Linked DNA regions of Homo sapiens. The protein of the gene in region 2 interacts with the protein of the main gene of each other region in a pairwise test. Each region holds a gene or a part of one and is shown on either strand. Other genes may lie near its edges.

Region 1 (4,359 bases), on a different chromosome or scaffold from region 2:
CCAGCACAGTGAGCTCCTCCTTTTGTTCTTTTTTGCAGGATGACTTACTGTCTCTGAAGGTTGTAAGTGTGCTACACCATCTCAGTATCAAAAGGGCCATCCAGGTCCTGAGGATCAATAACTTTGAACCAAACTGTCTACGGAGGCGGCCATCTGATGAGGTAGTGTTTTAAGATTGAGGTTTATAAGCATGCACTTCCCAGGCATGGGACTGTCCATGTGTCGAAACTAAGAGCCATTTTTCTTGGAGCCTGCAGGAAAAGCCTTAAAATCCAGCCTCATTTACTTCTTAGGCTTTTTCTGTATTCCTTCCTTTTCTCTCCATGACGGTTCCCCTTGTGTAACTAAAGCCAAGGGTTCTTTTTCAGTTATGCTTCTTCCTTTTCTTGGGTGTATTTTTTTTTCCTGACTCTAATCAACAGAGATAAATATCACTATAAAGACTTCCTTTTCTGGCCAAGTATAGTGGCCAATGCCTATAATCCCAGCACTTTGGGAGGCCAAGGCAGAAGAATCACTTGAGCCCAGGAGATCAAGACCAGCCTGGGCAACATAGGAAGACCCTGTCTCTACAAAAATAATAATAAATTAGCCAGGCATGGTGGGTGCACGCTGGTGGTCCCAGCTACTCAGGAGGCTGAGGTAGGAGGATCCGTCTGAGCCTGGGAGATGGAGGCTGCAGTGAGCCCTGATTATACCACTGCAACGCCAGCGTGGGTAAGAGAATTAGACCCTGTCTTAAAAAAAAAAAAGACTTCCTTTCCTAAAGCAATGCTTTATTAGTATATAAGAAAGCTTGAAACTCAAACTATGACAGAAATTCTTTAAAAGAGAATTTTTCCCTTTCTTTTTGCATTTAGTGGGTTGTTGAGTAACTGTACTCCATGGAGCAGACTTTTTAGACAGAAAATGCAATTTAATATTTAGGATCCTGGTTGTGTGTTCCCATAGAATACCATCGCCCCATCAGAAGTTCAGAAGTGGACTAACCATCGAGTGATGGAGTGGCTGCGCTCCGTGGACTTGGCAGAATATGCGCCCAATCTCAGAGGCAGTGGTGTCCATGGTGGGCTCATGGTAAAGCTCTGATTTAATTTAAAATTGACTTACTTTGCTTCCTTTAGTCTAGTCAGTAGGATATTATCAATTTTTGCTTATCATAATCCTAAAGTCATCTGACTCAACCCTCCTGCCCTATTTCTAGTAAACCTTTACTTTCAGAGTATTTGTATTGATATCTTATAACTCTAGATTGAATTTAAAGCCAGTTCTCTTTTATTGTCCTCTTTCATGTTGAATAACATGTAGCTGCTTTCTCTCATATGATCATGTTTGAAAACCCCTGCAAGGATGCAGATTGTATTTCTGCATGTTAATGTTGCTTAAGGAGGTGGCTCCCACAGACAGCACCCTAGAGAGGCAGAGCACTGATATTGGGATGCCTGAAGCCTGGATTTCAGGACCAGCTCTATCACTCACTAACTTGGGAGAAATGGAGAAAAGATATGTAAATTAAAGATCAAAGTCCATATTGTGTCTACCTCACCGGGCTGTTGAGAGGATCATTGGAGATAACCTAAGAGAAAGCTTTGCAAATTATAAAGCACAATACAAACATGTATGATTTGTGGTGACTTTTGACAAGCTTTTTTTTTTTTCTTTAAACAGGTTCTAGAGCCTCGTTTTAACGTAGAAACAATGGCTCAGTTATTGAACATCCCACCCAATAAGACTTTGCTGCGAAGACATTTGGCCACTCATTTCAACCTTCTGATTGGGGCTGAGGCACAGCACCAGAAGCGAGATGCCATGGAGCTGCCGGATTATGTACTTCTAACAGCTACTGCCAAAGTGAAGGTTGGTTCAGGCTCATACGGTTTAATAATTGCTTGGCGCAAAGGCAACGTTTTGTCGGTTACCTGGTTATTCTGTTTTCTGGGGTTTACTAAGTTTTGTGGGTGGGTTCCTTACCAGCAGATGCAGGAATCCTCAGCGCTTAGTTGTCTTGGGAGAAAGATGTTGGCCAATAGACAGTTGACAGATAGAGAGCTTTATTGAAGGGAAATAGGGAGCAAAGAGCTTATTGTAAGAATAAAAAAAAAAGAAGAAGAAGTACAGGGGCTGATCCTGCAGGGAAAACAGCAGGGTCGCAGTAACAATGTTTATTTAAAGGGACAGTACACTCCAAAAACCAAGGCACAGCGGGCTGCTGAAAGAGAATGAGCCCAAGAGTTCTGCATTGGGTTTTTATGATGTCCAGTTTTTTCTTGAAGCTCTCACCACTGTGTTAAGTCTCTGCCTTTTTTATCTCGTTTTCCCGCTCCTGCCTTGAGTCCTTGCCTTCTCCCTGCCTAGTTCCCAACCCAGGCTTGTGGGACCCTCCCTTAACTATAGTTGGTGCGCATGCGTGGGCCGGGTGTTGGCTGCACTTCCACCTAAAGGCTGCATTGCTCATTCCCGCCGCCCCAGGAAGGTTGTATACCAGTCAAATCTATACGTACTGTACCTGCGTTTCTCTTAGGAATTCTCCTTTACCTTCTTCCCCTCTTTATCAGCATGCAGCTAGCTACATTCTGGCAGGTGATCTGCAGAGTGAGTGATTACTGGGCGTCTTAAGGGGCGTTCCTTTCTGCATAGGTATTTCCCCTCCTCTCTGCTCAAATGGAGCATGCATGTTTTGGGTGGTTTCTGGGGTGCGAGATTTTCCAGACCTCTCTTTTCTCAGGGGCTTCCCCTCATGTCTAGCTATCTGCCCACTCTAACAAGTTGAAGGAACAGTTGACCCTTGAAGAACATGAGTTTGAATTACACAGGTCCACTCCTACTCGGATTTTTTTTTTTCAAGCAAATGTGGAGGGATGCAAACCCCACATATAGGGAGGCCCAACTTTTTAGGTACACGGGTACTGCTGGACTTGAGTATGTACGGATTTTGGTATACATGGGGGTCTTGGAACTAATGCTCTGTGTATACTGAGGGACAACTGAGTATATATCTTTTAAAAGTATAATAATTAAGAGAATGCACCCAGATAGCTCAGTCAGTAGAGCATCAGACTTTTAATCTGAGGGTCCAAGGTTCATGTCCCTTTTTGGGTGTTCCCTCTTAGGTGGGCATGGTGGCTCATGCCTGTAGTCCCAGTGCATTGGGAGGCCAAGGCAGGAGGATCACCTGAGTCCAGTAGTTCAAGGCTGCAATGAGCTCTGATTGAGCTATGAGCATGCTACTGCACTCCAGCCTGGACAACAGAGCAAGATTCTGCCTCTAAAAAAATAATAATGAACAGCATAATATTGGCTTCCATAATCCATGTATTGGCAATGCAGACAGCCCATAACTTGGGTCCAAATATTGATTGCAGTTGTTCTGTTTTTATAAATCAAGTACAGAAGAGAGGTTTCTCTTGTACAGATTTAGCTTCTCTGGCTTATGATTGACCAGCCTCGTAAATAGGAAAATACACTTTAAAAATGATTGAAGGTGGGCCAGAAGAGAATGGGTATTTCCTAGTTTACCTGGATTTATGGATCATACCAAATTCAGATTACTTTTTCTTCTTTAAAATTAATCCTAGATTAACTCTTCTAAATATGTTATCCCAACCAACTTGATGGGTTACTGGGTCCTCCAGAAATTTGTGCCAAAGTTCTTTTTAATTTTTTTTTACCCCCTCTATCTGCCTGAGTATCCAGTGACCAACCCAGTGACCATCATGGAGTTTCTCTTCTAAGTATCACTGATGTTTCCTCTCCAAAAAATTCTTTTAGCAGTCACCAGTCCTGTTATGGAAGCAGAATAGGCATACAAGATAATTATAGCCTCACCCAAAGAAAAAATATAGTGAAGTCTATTCTATTTTGCTAATCTTAGATTGAAAAACCTTGCAAAATTGGATTCAGCTGTGAGAAATCTCATTGCATTAAGTCCTGTCTAATCAAAACTATGAAGCCAGGTGCAGTGGCTTGTGCCTGTAGTTTCAGCTACTCCAGAGGCTGAGGCAGGAGGATCCCTTGAGCCCAGGAGTTTGAGGCCAGCCTGGGCAACATAGCAAGATTCTGTCTCTAAAAATAATAGTAATGATGTAATCAAATTATTCTTGCCATATTTTGTTTATCACGGTGACTATTCAGCTATTTGGCGTGAATAAGAAGAATAAGGTTAATTTCCTGAGATTCATAACAAGGGTCATTTATCATTGCATCATTTATATGCCTAGGATGCCCTTTTGTTTTTATCCATATTTAAACATCCAGCTACTTTTCTCTCTACCATGGGGTAAATAATTAAATTATACATATAGGAGGGAGGGGGCAACGCAAAAAAAAATCACATGTTATCAGGCCTTGATTATATGAATT
Region 2 (6,304 bases):
CTGTGTTTCCTCGCATATCAAATGGGGATAACGATACTACCTACCTGATCAATCTGTTAATACATGTAAAGAGCTTAGAAGAGTACCAGGTATATGGGAAATGCTATAAATACCAGCTATCATTAACATTAATGTTAGATGAGTATTTTTAAAATCCACTGTTTGGATGCTTCCAGCTAAATAGTCTACCTTAATTGCTAAATCCAAAGAGCACTTTTCAGCTTACAACTTACTTGACGCTGTGGACCACTTCCTCCTCAGAACTCTTCATTTGGACTCCAAAGACCATCTTCTCCTGGTTTTCCTCCTATTCGTCTGGCTGCTCTTCCTCAGTTTCCTTCATGGGTTCTTCTTCTCCATTCCCCGCCACCCAATGTCAACTCTCTTTTCTTCTCACTCTTACTCTCTCCTTGGGTGAATTTATCCACCACACCCATGACTTAACACAGCACTTTCTGAACTTGCATCGTTTGCATAGCTTCACCGTGATTTTTGCCATTTCCATGTATCACATATATTTTTAGTTAATATTTCCCTTTTATTGAGCTCACTTGGCCTAAGTGATAATGTCCATGATTATCAAAGGTTAGATGTGCAAGTTATGTTTCTCATACACATTAAATTCCTATCTATTAAAATTTTTTCAAGTGTTTATCTATGTACCAGTTTAAATTATCTCATATGCACTGCAGTAAACAATGGCTTCCAAAATTCCAAATGCTGAAGACTCCCAAATCCTTCCAGGCGGGGTTGTATCTCTTGACTTCTAGACCCTACTAGAACTACTACAGGATCTTAACCAAGATGTCCCACAAGCCCCTCTGAATCAGGAAGTTCAAAAACAAACATCTTTTCCTCAAAAACAAACATATGAAATGAAGTTCTTTCCTCTTTCTGTATGCTGTTTATCAGTTAATTGTTCTACATGTCATTTTACTGCCCAAACCTAAACCCTGGGAGTCAACCTAGACTCCCCAGTCTCCTTCAATATTTCTGTCCAATGGACCACTAACTCTTGTCATTTCTGCTTCCCTAAGAAATCTAAAATTAGCACACATATACTTCTTCATGCCCAGTGCCACTGCCTTCACTGTTTCTCCTCTGAACTAATTTAACAAGCAGTCTCCTAACTGGTCAGACTTGCCTTCAATCTTGGCATCCTCTAAAACTCTGATCATATCACTTTACTGCTTAAAACCATGCAACAGCTTCCCTTCAGCTTGAGAATAAAGTCCAACTTCCCTAATATAAGCATAGAAGACCTTTTGTGATCTTGCTCCTGCTTTTATCCCCAGTCACTCCACAACACACAACCTAGAAGCCAGTCATACCCAACTGCTTGTCCTTCCTAAACAAAACTTATTCTGCAACCACCTAATGTCTATTAGTTCTTAATACTCAATTTCAGGAAGCATTTCCTGATCTTCCCACTACCATCAAGTTGATTTTTGCACCTCTTCTCTGTAAACAAGAGCACCCTGCCCATGTCTCTGACAGCAGTTTTCACATTGTTTGACCATCACAGGTTTATCTCTGCAGGGTCACTATGGATCCAGAGGATATATTGTGCAATCCATTTGCCATCTGTACTGCTATTTACTTAATACTTTTCTTTAGGATAACTCAAATCTTAACTTAGATGTAAACTAGTTTTAATGGAAATGTTGGTATCACCAAGAAAGCTTGCTTGGTACCATAAAATTTTTTATAATACAATCAAACAAAAATATACTACTAAAATTAAATATTAAAATAAAGAGCTTCTGATCCCATCAGTTATGGTCAACTATACACTCTGGGGGAATGTACTGTTGGGAGGAAAAAGGTATATCCTAGATTAAAAAAAAAAACACTTTTTGGATGTTTTTGCTGAGCTCATAGAAATAGGGGAACATGTGAAGGCACCCTCTCCACGCAAAAGCAACAAACCTTGAGCTAGAAATTAAACCTGGCTACAGTTTAGTGCTACAAGTAGTGGTGCCAAGAGCAGTAATAGGATCAGGACACTGAGCCCTGGGCCAGAAGCAAAATGTAGGAACTCAAAAGTGATGCCAGCTAAACTTTCTGGCTCCCAGACAAAGCTGATAGAAATGCTTTCAGAAAGCAAGCATCCTCAAATTAGACTCTCAAGATCACCACAAAGATCAAACAGAAGTTCATAATCAATGATCACCAAACACATGAGGTGACAGCTACATTGAGGAGAGACAACAGAAAAAAAAACAAAAAAGCAATAAATTTAGACATCCCCCTCCTCAAGGATATCAGACATTGGGAATGTCTGATATAGTCTACAGAATAGCTATAGAGTCACAAAAATCAGCATATAACATGAGAACATGAAGAATGACTGGACATATCAAAAAAGAACCAGGCAGAACTTTTAGAAATTAAAAATGCGGCCGGGCATGGTGGCTCATGCCTGTAATCCCAGCACTCTGGGAGGCCAACGTGAGCAGATGACGAGGTCAGGAGATCGAGACCATCCTGGGTAACACGGTGAAACCCCGTCTCTACTAAAAATACAAAAAAATTAGCCGGGCGTGGTGGCGGGCGCCTGTAGTCCCAGCTACTCGGGAGGCTGAGGCAGGAGAATGGCGTGAACCCGGGAGGCGGAGCTTGCAGTGAGCTGAGATCGCGCCTCTGCACTCCAGCCTGGGCGACAGAGAGAGACTCCATCTTAAAAAAAAAAAAAAAAAGTAATTAAAAATGCAATTGTTAAAAGAAAAAAAAGAGACAGGATGGGTTACAGAGGATATTAGGCACAGTTGAAGAGAAAATTGGTGAACTAAAATATATGCCTTATGAAATTATCCAGCACTGTAAATTCTGGTAAAGAGAAACAAAGAGATAAAAAATATGAAAGATAAAGAATAAGTGATCTGGAAACAGTTTAGTGTATATATATATCCAGTTAAAGTTCCAGCAGGAGAGAAGAGACTAATGAGACATAATATTTAAAGAATACAGGGCTCAGAAACTTCTAGATCTCATGAAAGACAAAATGCAGAATCATGAAACACATGCATCCAAAATAGGATAAATATAATCTCTATCTAGACTTAGAAGTGAAATGATGTAACACAAAAGACAGAAAATCCAATGTAACTAAAAGAAAAATGATATTTTCTTCAAAAAACGCATAAATAGGCTGGGTGCAGTGGCTCACGCCTGTAATCCCAGCACTTTGGGAGGCTGAGGCGGACAGATCACGAGGTCAAGAGATCAAGACCATCCTGGCCAACATGGTGAAACCCCATCTCTACTAAAAATACAAAAATTGGCCAGGCATGGTGGCAGGTGCCTGTAGTCCCAGCTACTTGGGAGTCTGAGGCAGGAGAATCGCTTGAATCCAGGAGGCGGAGGTTGCAATGAGCCAAGATGGCGCCACTGCACTCCAGCCTAACAACACAGCAAGACTCCACCTCAAAAAAAAAAAAAAAAAAAAAAAAAAAGGCATAAATAAAACTGGCAGCACACTTTGTATAAGCAACAGCAGAATAGTATTCCTACCCTACTGACAGAAAAGAAACACCAACCTACAATTGTACATCCATCAAAATGATCTGTCAAGAACAAAGGTAAAATAAAAATACTTTTAGATTTTTTTTAATATCTAAAACTGAGTCAAACACCAACCAAGACACCTGGAACATAACCAATTAAAAGACAGAAGTTGTCTGGTGAGATTAAAAGAAAAATCCAGTAGTATGTCCCTTATAAGAGACACTTAAAATGTAAGGACACTAAAAAAAATCAAAGTAAAATGAAAGAAAAGAATATTCCAGGTAAATTAGCACCAAAAGAAAGACGGGATCAGACAAAAAGCCTCTAAGACAAAGAAGCAAACTTAGAGAAGATCACAATATAGTAAAGGTTCGAGCCACTAGGAAAAAAATGTTAAGCTTGCATGTAGCTAATAAAAGTCTCAAAATACAGAAGAACAAAAATTGTTAGAACTACAGGAAATCTGTTAGAAACTAGTAATGGTGGAATATTGCAACACACTTCTCTCAGTTAATGATAGGATAAACCAAAATTAATAAGGATAAAGACTATCAGAACAACACAAATAACAAGCTTTACCTAATAGACACTTAACAATTACAGAATATATACTCTTCACAAGTGTACACAGAACAGTTCTAATAATTCACTATGTACAAGGCCATAAAGCAAGGGCAAAAAAAAAAAAATGCTAAAAAGATAAAATATTCTCTGGCAACACAAGTAAGAAATCGATAATTAAAGGAAAACAATATAGACACATTTGAAAATTTAAAAATGTCTAAGTAACTCATAAGTCAAAGAAAAAATCAAAATAGAAATTGTAAAAATACTTAGATTTGAAAGTTAATGAAAACACTATAAATTAAACTATGTTAGATAAGCAAAAATGAACTTTGAGGAAGTTTACAGTCTTGCATGCTTATACTAGGAAATCGGAATGGTTGAAAATTAATATTAAGTGTGTAATTTAAGTGAAAAAAATAGTAAAATAATAAACTGAAAGTAAAATGAAATAATAAAAGAGAAAAAAGATCAATGAAATAAAAAACAAATAATAGAACAAATTAGGCCAAAAGTTAATCCTTTGCCAAGATTTTAAAAATGGACAAACTTTTACTAAGACTGATCAAGAAAGAGAAGTCAGACATAAATAATATTCAACATGAGAAAAGGGGAACACATATACAAATAAAACAGAGATTAAAAAGAGAATTAATGCCATACCACGAGCGGTGGCTCACACCTGTAATCCTAGCACTTTGGGAGGCCGAGGTGGGCAGACCACTTGAGGTCAGGAGTTTGTGAAGAGCCTGGCCAACATGGTGAAACTCCGTCTCTACTAAAAATACAAAAAAATCAGCCAAGCATGGTGGCGCACGGCTGTAATCCCAGCTACTCAGGAGGCTGAGGCAGGAGAATCGCTTGAACTCAGGAGGCAGAGGTTGCAATGAGATGGCACCACTGCACTACTCCAGCCTGGGCAACAGAGGGAGACTCTATCTTAAAAAAAAAAAAAAAAAAAAAAAAAAAAAAAAAACCATACCATAAACTTGATGAAAGGACAAATTTCTAAAACTTACCAAAACTGACTAAAAGAAATAGAATACCTGAACAGTCCTATGACTGTTCAACTGCTAATTACTACTAAACCTCCAAGAAGAAAACATTAGATCCAAATGACCTTATAGTTAAGTTCCACCAAGCTTTTAAGAAACAAATCACTCCAATCCAAACTCTCCCAGGGAACAGAAAAAGAGGAACTATTCTCTAACTCATGGTATAAAGTCAGTGTAACTTTAATACCCAAGTCAGATAAGACAGCCAATAAAGAAAAATGAGAAGTGATTCTAGCCATAAACAGACACAAAAATCTAAATAAAATATGAGCAAACTCAATCTAGTAGTTCATAAAAATATAATCTATAAAGACCAATTTGGGTTTATCTCAAGAAAGAATATAAAAGAAAATGAACAGTTTTAAATCTATAAAACGGAATTCATTACATTTAACAGATTAAAGAAGAAAAGACACAAGATATTCTCAACAAATGCAGAAAAGCATGTGACAACTGAAAAGACTTCCCTAACTTAATCAAAGGTATCTACAAAAATTCACAGCAAATGTTATTCTCAGCTGAGAAATATTCTCTTTAAAATTGAGAACAAGAACTCTATGCCCACTATAATCGCTTCTAATGAACAACCCTAATCACTTCCATTGAACGTAAGTATAAAGTATGCCAGCACATTTAAGACCAAAAAAATGAATAAATTAAAAGCAAAAATAACTAGAAGAACTAAAACTGTCACTATTTGCAAATGATATAATTATCCACACAGAAAACACAAAGGAATTTCAGAAAAAATATTAGAAGTAGTAAGTTTATCAAGTGGATGACTAAAGGGTCAATATTTTTAAAAATTCATTAAATTTCTATTTAACAATAAGTTAAAATATTTACTAACAATAAATAAGTTAAGATAGAATCTTTAAGAACACCACCATTTATAATAGCAACAAAAACAATAACATCAGAATTAACATATGAAAAAGTGGAAGACCTCTATGGAGAATATTACAAAACTACACTAAAACTTTACATAAATAGAGATACATACCATATTCTTAAAAATAAAAAGGATCAAAATCTTAAAGATTTCGATTCTCCCCCAAACTGATTCAATTAATTCTAATTAATACCTACAGGGTTTTTCATGTCATGTAACAAGCTAATTCTTAAGAACAAATGACCAAAAATAGGTGAGATTCAAGTCCTCCCCAGATACCGAGATT
Region 3 (6,304 bases), on a different chromosome or scaffold from region 2:
ATAAAAGTCTTTCATAATTTTTCATGGTACCTTTAAAAATCCTTATCGTAAGTAATAAGTAAACTATCCTAGGGCTGATTGTGGCTGTTGACTGGAGGAGATGGTAGAACATTGGCAACCTTCCTCTGTGGCCTTCTTTTTTAACTGTGAACTAAAGACATGGTGGTACCTCCCTAAAATTGTTCTACGGGGTCTGAGAGAGCTGACTAGTGACCATGAGCCCTCTGGGCTCCTCTCGGATGCTCCCCAGAGAATACAGAATTAGAGAATAACCCTTTAGCCTAACCTCTACTGTCTCTCCGGTTTATTTTATAACACTGAGTGGTAGGCAGAAGACAGGGAAAGAAATCGCAAGCTGCTTATGTGGCCTGAACTGCGGTTTGTTTCCCTCCTCTTTCTTCAAGGCAGGCCTTGTTCTGATGCTTTTCTGTAGGTAAGCAAGGAGAGAATTAACATTGCCCATGTCTCTGGGACTGGGCCTGTGAGCTGCTTTTGTTTTTTGGCCATTGAGGGCCCTTGAGTATTGGTTTTGTAACTCATTTTTTTCAACAGACTTAACAAAGTGTTCCCACCAGAATTTCCCACCAGAACTTTGACTTGTCTTCTGCTCACAAATGTTTGTGTACCTCAAAATCTGATGTGAATGACTGGGTTTTAATTTAATTGCTTAAATGTAAAGTTTGCCCTTTCTGGATCCTGAGTTCTTCTGTGCACAGCCAACTAGTTCAGAATATTTGGGAAAGGACCAAACAATGGAAGTCATGGCTGCTTTGCTGGCTTGACTGCCATCGTGCCTGGCACGATGCCTAGTTCTTGGTTTTGGTGGTCTCCCCATTAGGTTCCCCATCTCTTAGGTTCCCACTGCTGCTATTTGGCCATTTGCCTGCCCATCAGGCCCCTGCCCCAAGGTGTGAACGGGAGGAGGTCTAGGTGGCTACTTAGATCGAGGAACCTGAGAAGAAAGTGGACAGCTGTTGAATCAGAAAATAGTTCAAAATTTTCTGGTTTTTGTTTTTCCATTTTCTTTCTCAGTCATTGCCACAGCCAATTTAGCTATTTAATCTTTCCTCACAAGGCTTTTTCAAAATAGATAAATAGGAAAAGAAAACCACTGTTGGGAAGTTGGTTTATTCTTAGTCTGACCACTAATTTGCTCAAATATATATCTAGATATAGATATCTATATATACATATATATTTTGAGATGGAGTCTTGCTGTGCTGCCCAGGATGGAGTGCAGTGGCGTGATCTCGGCTTACTGCAACCTTCATCTCCTGGGTTCAGGTGATTCTCCTGCCTCAGCCTTTCAAGTAGCTGGGACTACAGGCATGTGCCACCATGCCTGGCAAATGTTTATATTTTTAGTAGAGACGGGGTTTTGCCATGTTGGCCAGGCTGGTCTCAAACTCCTGACCTTAGGCGATCCACCCACCTCAGCCTCCCAAAGGACTGTGATTACAGGTGTGAGCCACCGTGCCTGGCCCAAAGAGTATTTTTATTTTTGAGACAGAGTCTCACTCTGTCGCCCAGGCTGGAGTGCAGTGGCACGATCTTGGCTCACTGCAACCTCTGCCTCCGGGTTCAAGTGATTCTCCTGCCTTAGCCTCCTGAGTAGCTGGGACTACAGGAGCACACCACCAGGCCCGGCTGATTTTTGTATTTTTAGCAGTGACGGGTTTCACCATGTTGGCTAGGATGGTCCCGATCTCCTGACCTCGTGATCCACCCACCTTGGCCTCCCAAAGTGCTGGGATTACACATGTGTCACCATGCCCGGGCAAAGAATATTTTTTGAAAAATAATATAAGTAATATTCCAAGCCTGGGCTGTTCTGGGCTGGACTGGGCTGAACTCTGCTGTCATTTTAAGGTCATGGAGGCGGAGCAGACCAAGACCAGGAGCGAGCTGGTGCATAAGGAGACGGCAGCCAGGTACAATGCCGCCATGGGCCGCATGCGACAGCTGGAGAAGAAACTCAAGAGAGCCATCAACAAGTCCAAGTAAGTCTGGACAGGGCCTTCCCTGGGGCCGTGCGGCTGTCCTAGTCTGCATCTTCTCAGCCTTTTGTATGTCACACACTCAAGGACCACCCTGAGTAGTCCTTTGATGTAGACCCTGGGGCCTCACCAGAGCCCCCCTGCTCAGGCTCTCTTTCCCCCTAATATTCTATGACCCCCAGAAGCAGAGGATGCTAAGGGGTGGGCTGCTCTAGATATGACTAAGTTAGGAAACACAGAAAAAGGAATTTCAAAGGCACATTATTAAATGGCCCATTGGCTGGGATTTGGTAAATTCACGCTGTACTCTGGGATCTGTGGTTGACAGTGTTGTCAAGGCCCTATCCCTCAATTTATCTGTCAGTGTAATAGGGATGAGTTGTGTTCACAATACATGTTTCCTGTGATCAAGAGCTGATAAAATGCTGTAAGACTGGCTTTAGTAGAGTTTTTTTTTTTTTCTCCAATCTCTTCTCACTACAGCCCTGTATATTTTTATACAACATTGATAATGGTGGGCAGGCACAACTGTGTACCCTCTCTTGGGGACAAGCCCCCTGCTTCATTCCCAATTGCTAGGCCTCCTAGCAAAAGGAGGAGGACTTATGATGACCTAGACTTAACAGCCAAAGATAGACCCAGAGCAGGCTGTGCAGGGCTACTGAATGCCTGTTCTCCAGGTGTGGTCACAGCCCCAGCCAGGAGGGGCTGGGCAGTTGGAAGCTTGGCAGATGCCCAGTCCTCATGCAAGTGAGGGAAAGGTGACAATTCAGTGAGGAAGAGGATCTGCAAGGAAGAGTTTGGTCCTCCTAGGCTCTGTACTACCCCCCAGTACCTTCACCCAGGCTTGACTTTTCTTTAGTTTCTGCTCACACTCTTCCAACATACATATGTACACATACATGCAGAGGAACACCATTTAACCATTTACTATTGCACTTAATTGACTAGTGTATTTTTGTTTTGGTTTGGTTTTTGGTGTGTCAGGGGCTGATCTCCTGAGAGCTAAGTAGTAGACGTGTATATGGCATTTTTCTGCAGGGGAGGCAGGAGGTGGCGAGGGTTGTTGTAGGACCTGTGCCTGCTCTGGGCAAGCCCAGGCATCATCCACATGCCAACACCCAAGGAGGCCGAGGAGCAGCCTTTGATGCTGCTTCCTTTGGTGTGAATATGGTGGGTCTTTTCTCAAAAGACCCCGAATTCACACTGCACACACATCACATACTCATCCATTAACCTGTTTAAGAAAATAAATCTTGTGATTGTACTTTGCCAACCTTTTCAGACTCCGAGAAGAGTACAGGGATAGATCGTAGTCTTGGGTGGCTCCTGTCTGCCCAAAGGTTAAAATGTACATCTGTGCATTCCACAGAGTGGCTTCCAGGCCACCTCCATGCCCACCCTGCCTCTCCAGCCACACTCCCTTGCATGGATGCTCATGTTCCTTTTGCTGGGACATCTTCCCTGTGCCCTCCGATGCCCATTCACACACATACTCTTCACCTTGTGCTCCTTTTGGTCACACGAGAGAGCTTATACACCTCTCTCTCCCCCCAAATTTCAGGATTTTCATACCCACCAATGGCAGTCCTGTGTCCTTGTCATCCATCTGGATCCTCAGGATGCAGGACTTGAGAGCTTCATGGAGGGTGAACAGCTCAAGAATAAAGCAGTGATCTACTCTTAATGTTCAGGCACCAAAGTTCCTAAAAAAGAGCCAAGCTCTTTCAGCTGACCCAGAACCAAGGGAACTGCTAGGACGCTGGCATTTCTTGGGCCCATTATGTGGCTGAGTCAGCCAACTAATAACTCCAGTCTTTGGACAAGGTTTGGGAGGACCAACCTGAGACCCCCTCCTAGTGGTGGCCTTGCTGTGCTGTGAGGGAGGAGTGGTGCTTCTCTCTCTTCCCCAGTTGACTTCAGTAGAGGAGGAGGTTTAAGCAGCCCCTTCTCCAGCCTCAGCTGCTCTTCATCCCTGGGGAGCCAACTTCATTAGGAGAGCAGATCCAGGCCACCCTTACTGCTGGGTATAACCTGTGAGGCTCTGAACAGCCTTCCCACAGAGGAGGAACATGAGCTAAGTTGCAGAGTCCCCAAGATATGTGTGTGTGGGTTCCCCGTGTCTTGAGATGGGCCTCCTGTTAATATAGCCCTGGGTGAGCCCAGTCGTTCCATCTGGTGTCTGTCAGTCTCCAGAGCTAGGAGCATCACTGACATGTCACGGCCTTGTTAAGAGTTTACTAAATATTGGAAGGACGACCTGGCCAGTGGTAGCTGATGCCTCTTGTTCATCTTGTGGAGTTGACTGTGGTCACTGTATTATATTACTCTGATGGCTTTCCTTCCTGTCTTCTGCAGGCCTTATTTTGAACTCAAGGCAAAGTACTATGTGCAGCTCGAGGTATGTGTAGCTTTGGGCTTCGTCACTGATGAGATTTTTCTGCACTCAAAGCTTCACTTTTCTGGGGTAGCAGAGTATCACATGGGCCACTTGCTATAAGGGGAAAGTGGAGAGACAGGCTTTACTGAGTTTTCAGACCTCAAAATTGTCTCGGTTGGGTCTTCAGTGGTCTCTGAACCTCTGTAACTGCCATTCAGTCACCTTCTCTGTTGTACTAGGCCAGTGGTTCTCACAGCATGCTCTTAGGACCAGCAGCATCAGCATCACCTGGAGACCTGATAGACCAGGTCCCACTCTAGACCGACTGAATTAGAAACTCTGAGGTTGGAGTCTAGTGAGCTGAGTCTTAACACCCAAGGGGATTTTGATGCAAGCTCAACTTTGAGAACCACTGTACTGGGAACCAGATGTCTAGACTGTGGGACTTTGGTGTGTCTGATGCCCATTTTTGCTTCCCTGATGGGGTTTGTTCCACCAGTGAGAGTTTTTGGATATTAGAGGTTGTCACCTGGATGGGATCTGGGGATGGTGGTGGCTGATTTTGTCTGGTGAATGAATAGCAGTTACAATGGTAATTAGGTCTTCAGTCATGTCTTGGAAAATTCCTTGAAGTAGAATGATGGGCAGAAAATGTACTTGAACCTGTCATTCAGAAAGCATCTTAAGGCTAGCAGGGTAGTCTTCACTTAGTCTCCTGTTCTCTTGATCAGCAACTGAAAAAGACTGTGGATGACCTGCAGGCCAAACTGACCCTGGCAAAAGGCGAGTACAAGATGGCCCTGAAGAACCTGGAGATGATCTCAGATGAGATCCACGAGCGGCGGCGCTCCAGTGCCATGGGGCCTCGGGGATGCGGTGTTGGTGCTGAGGGCAGCAGCACATCTGTGGAGGATCTGCCAGGGAGCAAACCTGAGCCTGATGCCATTTCTGGTAAGTCAGGGGCTCCACTGGGTATGTGGGGAGATATCAGACTGTGTGATTTGTTTCCCAAGGTCCTCACTTTCTCTGGCCATCAGTGAAAGGTCTCAGAGTTGGGCAGGCCTGAGGGCTATTTCTGGTGGGTTCCCATGTTTTATGGAACACTGTGTTCATTAAGAAGGTACTAAGTGTTCCTCAAAGTCAGGATTCTGTGGTCAAATAAATTGGGAAAATGTTACACCTTCACTCCTCTTTGAGAGTCAAAGTATACATTTGAACATTCAAGGCTGAGAAGTCCTGCAGGAAAGAAGAGCTGTAATCAGATTTGATTCAAAGCTACCTTTACATCATTACTAAGGCATGATGTGGGCAAGGGCCTAACTTTGTATTTCAGTTTCTTCACCTGTAAAATGGGGAGTATGACGCTATCTACTGTATACTATCCGTTGTGTAGGGTGGTGGTTCAGCTTACATGAATCAACCCCTGACACCCAAGAAGCACTCAGCAAATGGTGGCTCTTACTGACATCTGACCATAGAGACCTCTTTTCCCAGGGCCTCCCCCTGGAAAACTGATAGAAGTTTGACTTGGTTTCTGTCATGCTCATCAAGAAAACCCACCCAACGCTGTCTTTGCATACTTCCTTTCTTTTCCTTACCTGTGCAATAATCCCTGTCGGCTCTTTCCCAAGCTCCTTCCTCAGGAGTTAATTCCTTCAACAAATATTTAAGTACTAGGTTCAAGGTAAAGGAAAAGGAAACTATCATTTGAACAACTACTATGTATGAGGTACTTTAATATATACATCATCTCAAACCCTGCATGGAGAGGATCATGAAGCTTACAGAGGTAAAGTAACTTGACCAAGGTCACACAGCAAGTAGTGGAGTTAGGGATTCAATTCAGGTCTGAGCCCATTTTCTGTCCCCAACATTACAGTATTTATCATTTATAAGAAACCTTTATGGAATGCTACAAGGCTGTTTT
Region 4 (6,304 bases), on a different chromosome or scaffold from region 2:
CATTAAGAAAAATGGTCAAAGAAAAAGAAGAAGCAATTCAAAGACAGTCTACCCTGGAAAAAAAGATTCATGAGCTAGAGAAACAAGGGACCATTAAAATTCAGAAGAAAGGGGATGGGGATATCGCCATACTGCCAGTTGTGGCTTCTGGCACATTGTCCATGGGGTCAGAAGTGGTAGCAGGTAACTCTGTGGGACCCACAATGGGGGCCGCTTCCTCAGGACCCTTGCCCCCTCCTCCACCACCACTGCCTCCCTCATCAGACACACCTGAAACAGGTAAGAAGCCTTGGCAGGAGGACTGAGGAAGTTTTGGAATATTTGTATTTCTTCTTTTGCCAACTGTCCACTTCTGTCCTTTGTCCGTTTTTGTTGGCATGTTCTTTAAGAATTGGTTTTCTTGAGTAGTTCTTAACTGTTTACATTTTGAGATTAAATTTATAAATCCTCATTTCACATATGTTGAAATATTTTTCCCACATGTCAATGAGGACATTTTTTGGTTTTTGAAAACAGTCCTTTGTCCTTTTAAGTGTGTTGTTTTCAGATGGCTTTATATGCACATGGCTTATTGCAGGAAAGCCATTCCCGTATTTTCAAAGTCCATCTGTTTCTTTTTTCTTTGCTAGTGCAAAATGGTCCAGTAACACCACCTATGCCACCGCCGCCGCCGCCCCCTCCTCCACCTCCTCCTCCCCCACCGCCCCCTCCGCCTCCTCCTCTCCCAGGCCCTGCAGCTGAGACTGTACCAGCTCCTCCCTTAGCACCTCCCCTTCCCTCTGCACCTCCGCTGCCTGGAACATCTTCACCCACAGTGGTTTTCAACTCAGGATTAGCAGGTAAGAGCACAGAATTCAAACCCAGGTACTCATATCAGAAATGCTGTCTTATCTCGGAGAGTTGAAGCTATTCTTTCAAAGTCCAGGTCTCTTGCAATGATGTGTATCTCTTCCTAGTATAAGAAATTCCTGCTGATGTAGCCGATAGAGGGAACATCATCACGCATGGGAGGCACTTTGCTCTGAGTAGTCTTTGTCACAACCACACCCCACAATGGGAGGTTCTGATCTCCTACACCATCTTCCTGCCTTCCACTGGCCCCACCGAGAGAATGGAAGAGAGACAAGCTACCTGCTTGAGGATCAGTGCATTTTTGTGGGTTCAGCAGATACTTTCTGGACACCTGTAGTATTCAAAGCTCAGTATTAGGCACAGACATTGAGTGCTTCTGGATCTTTTTTTTTTTAAATGGTATTTTTGATGTCATCTATAAAAGGGAAACATGCTTTTATGTGTAATTGCCTGACGTAGGCTTCCAGGCATGTCTTCTGAGCATTCGAGAACATCAGAATTTGCTAGAGTGGATTTAAACTTCAAGGAGGAAGTGCTGCCAACAGCCGTATTATCATGCCTTAAAATGCTGCCAAATAATTCATGTCCTCTTGCCAACCAGAAGATAGAAAACAGCATCCTCACCTCACCAGAAATAAAATGGGAGGTAGGGGTTAGAGCAGGAGGAAGAGTCACTCTAATGCCTTGAAATCTAAGCTCTTTGTTTTGACTCACGGAAACAAAGATGACGCTACGAGCCGTTTTCTCAGTCCTGAAGTGTTTCCCTGGCATCTGGAATTGCTCTAAGCTTTGCCATCCCTGTGACGTGGGGTAATTCTGCCTCCTCATTTACTTCAGCCTGTTCATGAGGTCTCTTATTTACAATAAAGAACTACCACTCTAATAGCCTCCATTTCCAAGGCTGTGATAGTTCTCAGAGCCTTTTGCCCAAAGTCTAAAAGCCAGTCTTAGCTGTAAAGATTTCCCAATCTCCATCCCTTCCAGGATCCCATCTGCAGCTCTGCCAGCCGGTCACTGGGGCTCATTCATCCCAATGACTGGAGCCCTTTTGGATGCCCCAGAGTCACCTAGAATAAATTCACTCCACATCAAATCCATGGTTTTACTTCCACCCCGACTTCTATATAAAACTGTCAGGGAAACAAGATTCCAGTTCACAGTAAGGTCCACAGTAAATCGGTGACTTATTTCTACCCTTCAAGATCTTCCCCGTCTACCACTTTCTTCTAGAACTTTTATTACTTCTGAAGGAGAAAAGTTGGAGCAGAGTCATCGTGGAACTGATGGACTATGGAATATAAACAGACAAACAAGAAACCTCATATCAAGCCCCGGGAATGTGTTCCATCACCAGGCTGTTGTCAGTAACTGGGTGTGGAAACCCATTATCGTCCCGTGCACCTGGCCACCCTGATTAGGCACTCTTGGTAGCCCCCAAGGCGCACTTGCTGTGAGATGTGTCTGCTGTGGTATCTCATTTGGGGCTGCTTCCTTTGTCTCTGACAAACGCTGATGTGTGATTTAGCACCCACTTCCACGCACCTGAGCACTAACATAGACCTCAGAACCGCCTTAGCCGAGTGAGAGCCCAGAGGCTGAGATGTGTCTAGAGCTTCCTTCCAAGGGGCCATGTCCTGTGTGATTGATCTATTTATTAATTGTTTTGCTTGGGTTCTTCCCACTACTTGATTTTAAAAATGTGTTGGCTCTGTCAATTGCCTCAATATTTTAAGGTGTAGAGCTCTGTGCTTGGCTGATAACCAACTGCTTTTAGGGTTTGCTATACTTGGAAGTGGTCCCTGTTGTGGCTCATGCAATTTAGAGGACTGTAGGTGGGAATACAGGAACTCTTTATTTCCATAAGTGTCCACTAAATGATTGTGAGGGATGTCTTGGAAGCATTATAAGATCCTTGTGAGTCTTTGATAGCTCGAGATCAGGCAATTTCTCCAAGGCCTTTAATCTTTCTTTATTATTCATCCTTATTTAGACTGTTAATTCTTAGTGATTGAAGCCCATTTGGTGAGATGTTTTGCTAGTGTGTTGAGTAACTCTCTCTCTCACTCTGGAACCAAGAGGCCAGACAGAATCAGGATGCCCAGTAGAATGAAGAGACAGAGCTGAGCTAATATTCTGAAGCCTCCTGGGAAGTCAGAAACCTATGACATCACTTGGCCTCTGGACCCACAGGCAACACGAGGGTCTTATCTCTTCAATGGGCAGGTGTGTTCTTGGAGACCAAGACAGAAGACCAAGAGGAGAGCCCCATAGTTTATCTAGTTGAGAGTTTTCTTTGTATTTTATAGAGAAAATAGTAGTAGTGTGAAATATGCATTTGAAGAAGAAGGCTTCCTTCCTCTCAAGTCTGTGATAGAACAACCTGGCTCCCTTTCCCCCGGTAGGTCACCTGAGACAGGCTGCTGAGCAGGTGGAACCTTTGCCGTCTGTCTGGGAGGATGTGCTCGGATCCTCACAATGCGAATTTGGACTTTGGTTGATTGTTTTTCATGTAAAAATTATTCCTATCCTATGGAATGCCTAGCACAGTTCAGTATTGCTGTTTGGTACCACTACGATGAAATAATTTTTTTCTTCCCTCTTCTAAAAAGGATAATTTTAAAAATGAAATAGTTGAGTCTTGGAGGCAGGCCTGAATGGAAATGAATTTTTGGCTCTGTGCCGCCTTGTGAAATGTGTCCAAGAAGCATGAAATTCTATGCTGAGTGCGTGAACTGCTGAGCCACTTGACTCTAACCATATCTAATTTTTTTTGTATTTTCTCTGTTCTTTCTGCTTCCACAAAAGATGGGCCAATCAAGCTTTTCTGTAGGTTGCTCCTCACTGAGTGTGTTGAGTATTTGCCATGTGTTTCTGTTGGTCACACTGTGCCTTGACATCTTTCCACTCCATTTTGCTTTGATCCATTGCATTTTGACTTTGTGTCTGCGGGAAGTCTTGGTGGTGGCTGATGATGATTCCAGGTTTGCCCACACATTCTAGTTGAACCTACATAAGAGACTATTGTCCTTGAAGCAGACATCCTGGATTCATATGCCCTCTTCCATTTCCTCTGAGAAAAGGTTTTTTTTTTTTTTTCTTCTTCTTCTTTTAATTTTTATATTTGTATCTGAGACTTCAACTCTAAGAACAAAAAAAAGGTGCCAGGTGCCCCTTTTCCATTCCCTCCCTCATGCTGGTCTCTGGCCCACTCCAGGGAGCACTCACCCGCCTTTAGCCCGAGCCATGGGGACACAGTGTGTCCAGTGGTCACCTATGTGCTTTCCTCCTCTTCCCACTCCCACCCTGGTTAAAGCCAGGAAAACCTTTCCAAGGAGGAGAACTTTCTTGCCTGTGTTCTGATCTCAGGCTTATTCCTGACCTTGCTAAATAGTTAGAAGGGTGGTTGCAAATGGCAAACTTCTAGCGAGCGTCATGAGCCTACCATGTCTGTGGGAGGAAGGTAGGACGCCATTGGCACCAACCTGTCACCTCAGGTTATGAAAAGACTCCTCTGCGGCCCTTCTGCTGCTCCCCAGATCCCTAACATTGCCGAAGTGCCAGAGGCAATGCTAGGGCAAGTGCTAGAGGAAAGTCTGTTCCTTTGTCCCATCGAGAACATCTGTTTTCCTGGGTAGCGTAGACAAAATGCTGTACGGTGAGGAATCTGACACTGTGGCGTAGTGGGGACAAAGGTGTCATGTTTGGTGGTGGAGAGGCCTGGTTTGGCTAAAGCTGTGTCTGTTTTTCTGCATGCTTTTGTGTGGATTTATCAGATGACATTCCTGCTGTTTAAATGGCCTTTGTAACTCTGGAGGAATGAGAGGCACTGTCTGTCTCAGTTAACGCCAACTGAGGCAGGCAGGCAGGCAGCCAGCTACAAGCTTAGTCGTGTGTTGCTTTTATTTTGTTCTGCACTGAAGCGCTGAAGTTCTCCTCCCTGTCTTGCTAATAATGACAAATAGTGAAGCTCCCAAGTAGTGTGGTAGGCTACCCAGAACAGACTGACGAAGCTGAATGTGTATGGCTAAATGGTTTGGGAAGACTTCTTTATGATATATAATAGATAAATATAATTTTAAATGGATTACCTTTTTTGGCATATTCCCGCACAGTGAGAGGAGTTGGCACTCCCCATAGTCCCTTAAAGATACATCCCATTCTCTCTATTAAGAGGTTTTCAGTATTTTTAATGAGTGTGTAGATACCTCCTAGTCAAACACAGCTGACTCCTGGGAAGAACTTGCTTTTCAAAATGAAGGGCAAGGGACTGTGGCTATTTCTGAGTCTGAGAATCCATACAATTCCTTCCCTTCCCTCCCCTCCCCTCCCCTCCCCTCCCCTCCACTCAATTCCCTTCGCCTCCCCTCCCCTCCCTTCCCTTCCCTTCCTTCCCATCTCAAAAAAGAGGAGTTTCCTCCCTTCCTCCCTTCCTTCCTCTTTTTTGAGATGGAGTTTCGCTCTTGTTACCCAGGCTAGAGTGCTATGGCGTGATCTCGGTGCACTGCAACCTCTGCCTCCCGGGTTCAAGCGATTCTCCTGCCTCAGCCTTCCGAGTAGCTAGGATTATAGGTGCACACCACCACAACTGGCTAATTTGTGTATTTTTAGTAGAGACAGGGTTTCACCATGTTGGCCAGGCTGGTCTTGAACTTCTGACCTCAGGTGATCCACCTGCCTTGGCCTCCCAAAGTGCTAGGACTTTGAGCCACCACGCCCAGCAATTTCTTTTCCTTCCCCCCCGCCCCTTTTATTTATTTATTTTTAAGACAGAGTCTTGGTCTGTATGTACCCCTTTTTTCACTCTGTTGTCTTAAACATTTTCTTAGGCTGGGCAAGATGGCTCACGCCTGTAATCCCAGCACTCTGGGAGGCCGAGTGGGGAAGCTCGCTTGAGTTCAGGAGTTTGAGACCAGCCTGGGCAACATGTGAAACTCTGTCTCTACAATAAATATAAAAATTAGCCAGGCATGGTGGCACACAGCTGTGGTTCCAGCTACTTGGAGGCTGAGGTGGGAGGATTGCCCGAGCCTGGGAGGTCAAGGCTGCAGCGAGCCATGATTGCGGCACTGCACTGCAGCCCGGGTGACAGAGCAAGACCTCAAAACCTATTTTCTCATTTAGGCCATTCATATCCCTTAGTCTGCTTGAAATAACCCAGCAGCCAATATATCTTCATTATCGGAATCACCCACAGGAAGTCAGCCTTCATGACGTTGTACTTCTGGTAGTCTAGTCAGCCACTGTCTGCAGTCCCTGATCATCTTCTAAGGTTTGTTTGTAAACATGTGGTCTGCAACCAAGAATTTAGGATGTCCAAATATGGCAAGTTTTTGCCCTCTCTGCTATCTAGTAACATGAGTAATAATCTTTGCTCTCCAACACTTTTTATTTGTCCCAACCATTGTCCTAATATTGTAACTGTAATGCAGCAAATTAGTTGCCTGAGTTAAAA

What was found.
Region 1: the proteins of TTC3 (region 2) and PPFIBP1 interact in a two-hybrid assay, tested with the Homo sapiens proteins (one large-scale study listed by BioGRID and IntAct).
Region 3: the proteins of TTC3 (region 2) and SH3BP5 interact in a two-hybrid assay, tested with the Homo sapiens proteins (one large-scale study listed by BioGRID and IntAct).
Region 4: the proteins of TTC3 (region 2) and FMNL2 interact in a two-hybrid assay, tested with the Homo sapiens proteins (one large-scale study listed by BioGRID and IntAct).

What each region holds. Positions count from the first base shown.
Region 1 is NC_000012.12:27,687,347-27,691,705, forward strand, and holds part of PPFIBP1 (liprin-beta-1), read left to right. Parts: intron 1-38; coding exon 39-161; intron 162-951; coding exon 952-1,077; intron 1,078-1,668; coding exon 1,669-1,857; intron 1,858-3,489; exon of another isoform or gene 3,490-3,780; intron 3,781-4,359. UniProt on the Homo sapiens protein: May regulate the disassembly of focal adhesions. Did not bind receptor-like tyrosine phosphatases type 2A.
Region 2 is NC_000021.9:37,078,261-37,084,564, reverse strand, and holds part of TTC3 (E3 ubiquitin-protein ligase TTC3), read right to left. Parts: intron 1,619-6,304; exon of another isoform or gene 234-1,618; intron 1-233. UniProt on the Homo sapiens protein: E3 ubiquitin-protein ligase which catalyzes the formation of 'Lys-48'-polyubiquitin chains. Mediates the ubiquitination and subsequent degradation of phosphorylated Akt (AKT1, AKT2 and AKT3) in the nucleus.
Region 3 is NC_000003.12:15,257,855-15,264,158, reverse strand, and holds part of SH3BP5 (SH3 domain-binding protein 5), read left to right. Parts: intron 1-1,869; coding exon 1,870-2,000; intron 2,001-3,576; exon of another isoform or gene 3,577-4,355; coding exon 4,356-4,398; exon of another isoform or gene 4,399-5,108; coding exon 5,109-5,328; exon of another isoform or gene 5,329-5,525; intron 5,526-6,304. UniProt on the Homo sapiens protein: Functions as a guanine nucleotide exchange factor (GEF) with specificity for RAB11A and RAB25. Inhibits the auto- and transphosphorylation activity of BTK. Plays a negative regulatory role in BTK-related cytoplasmic signaling in B-cells.
Region 4 is NC_000002.12:152,618,880-152,625,183, forward strand, and holds part of FMNL2 (formin-like protein 2), read left to right. Parts: coding exon 1-279; intron 280-629; coding exon 630-839; intron 840-2,082; exon of another isoform or gene 2,083-2,212; intron 2,213-3,657; coding exon of another isoform or gene 3,658-3,678; intron 3,679-6,304. UniProt on the Homo sapiens protein: Plays a role in the regulation of cell morphology and cytoskeletal organization. Required in the cortical actin filament dynamics.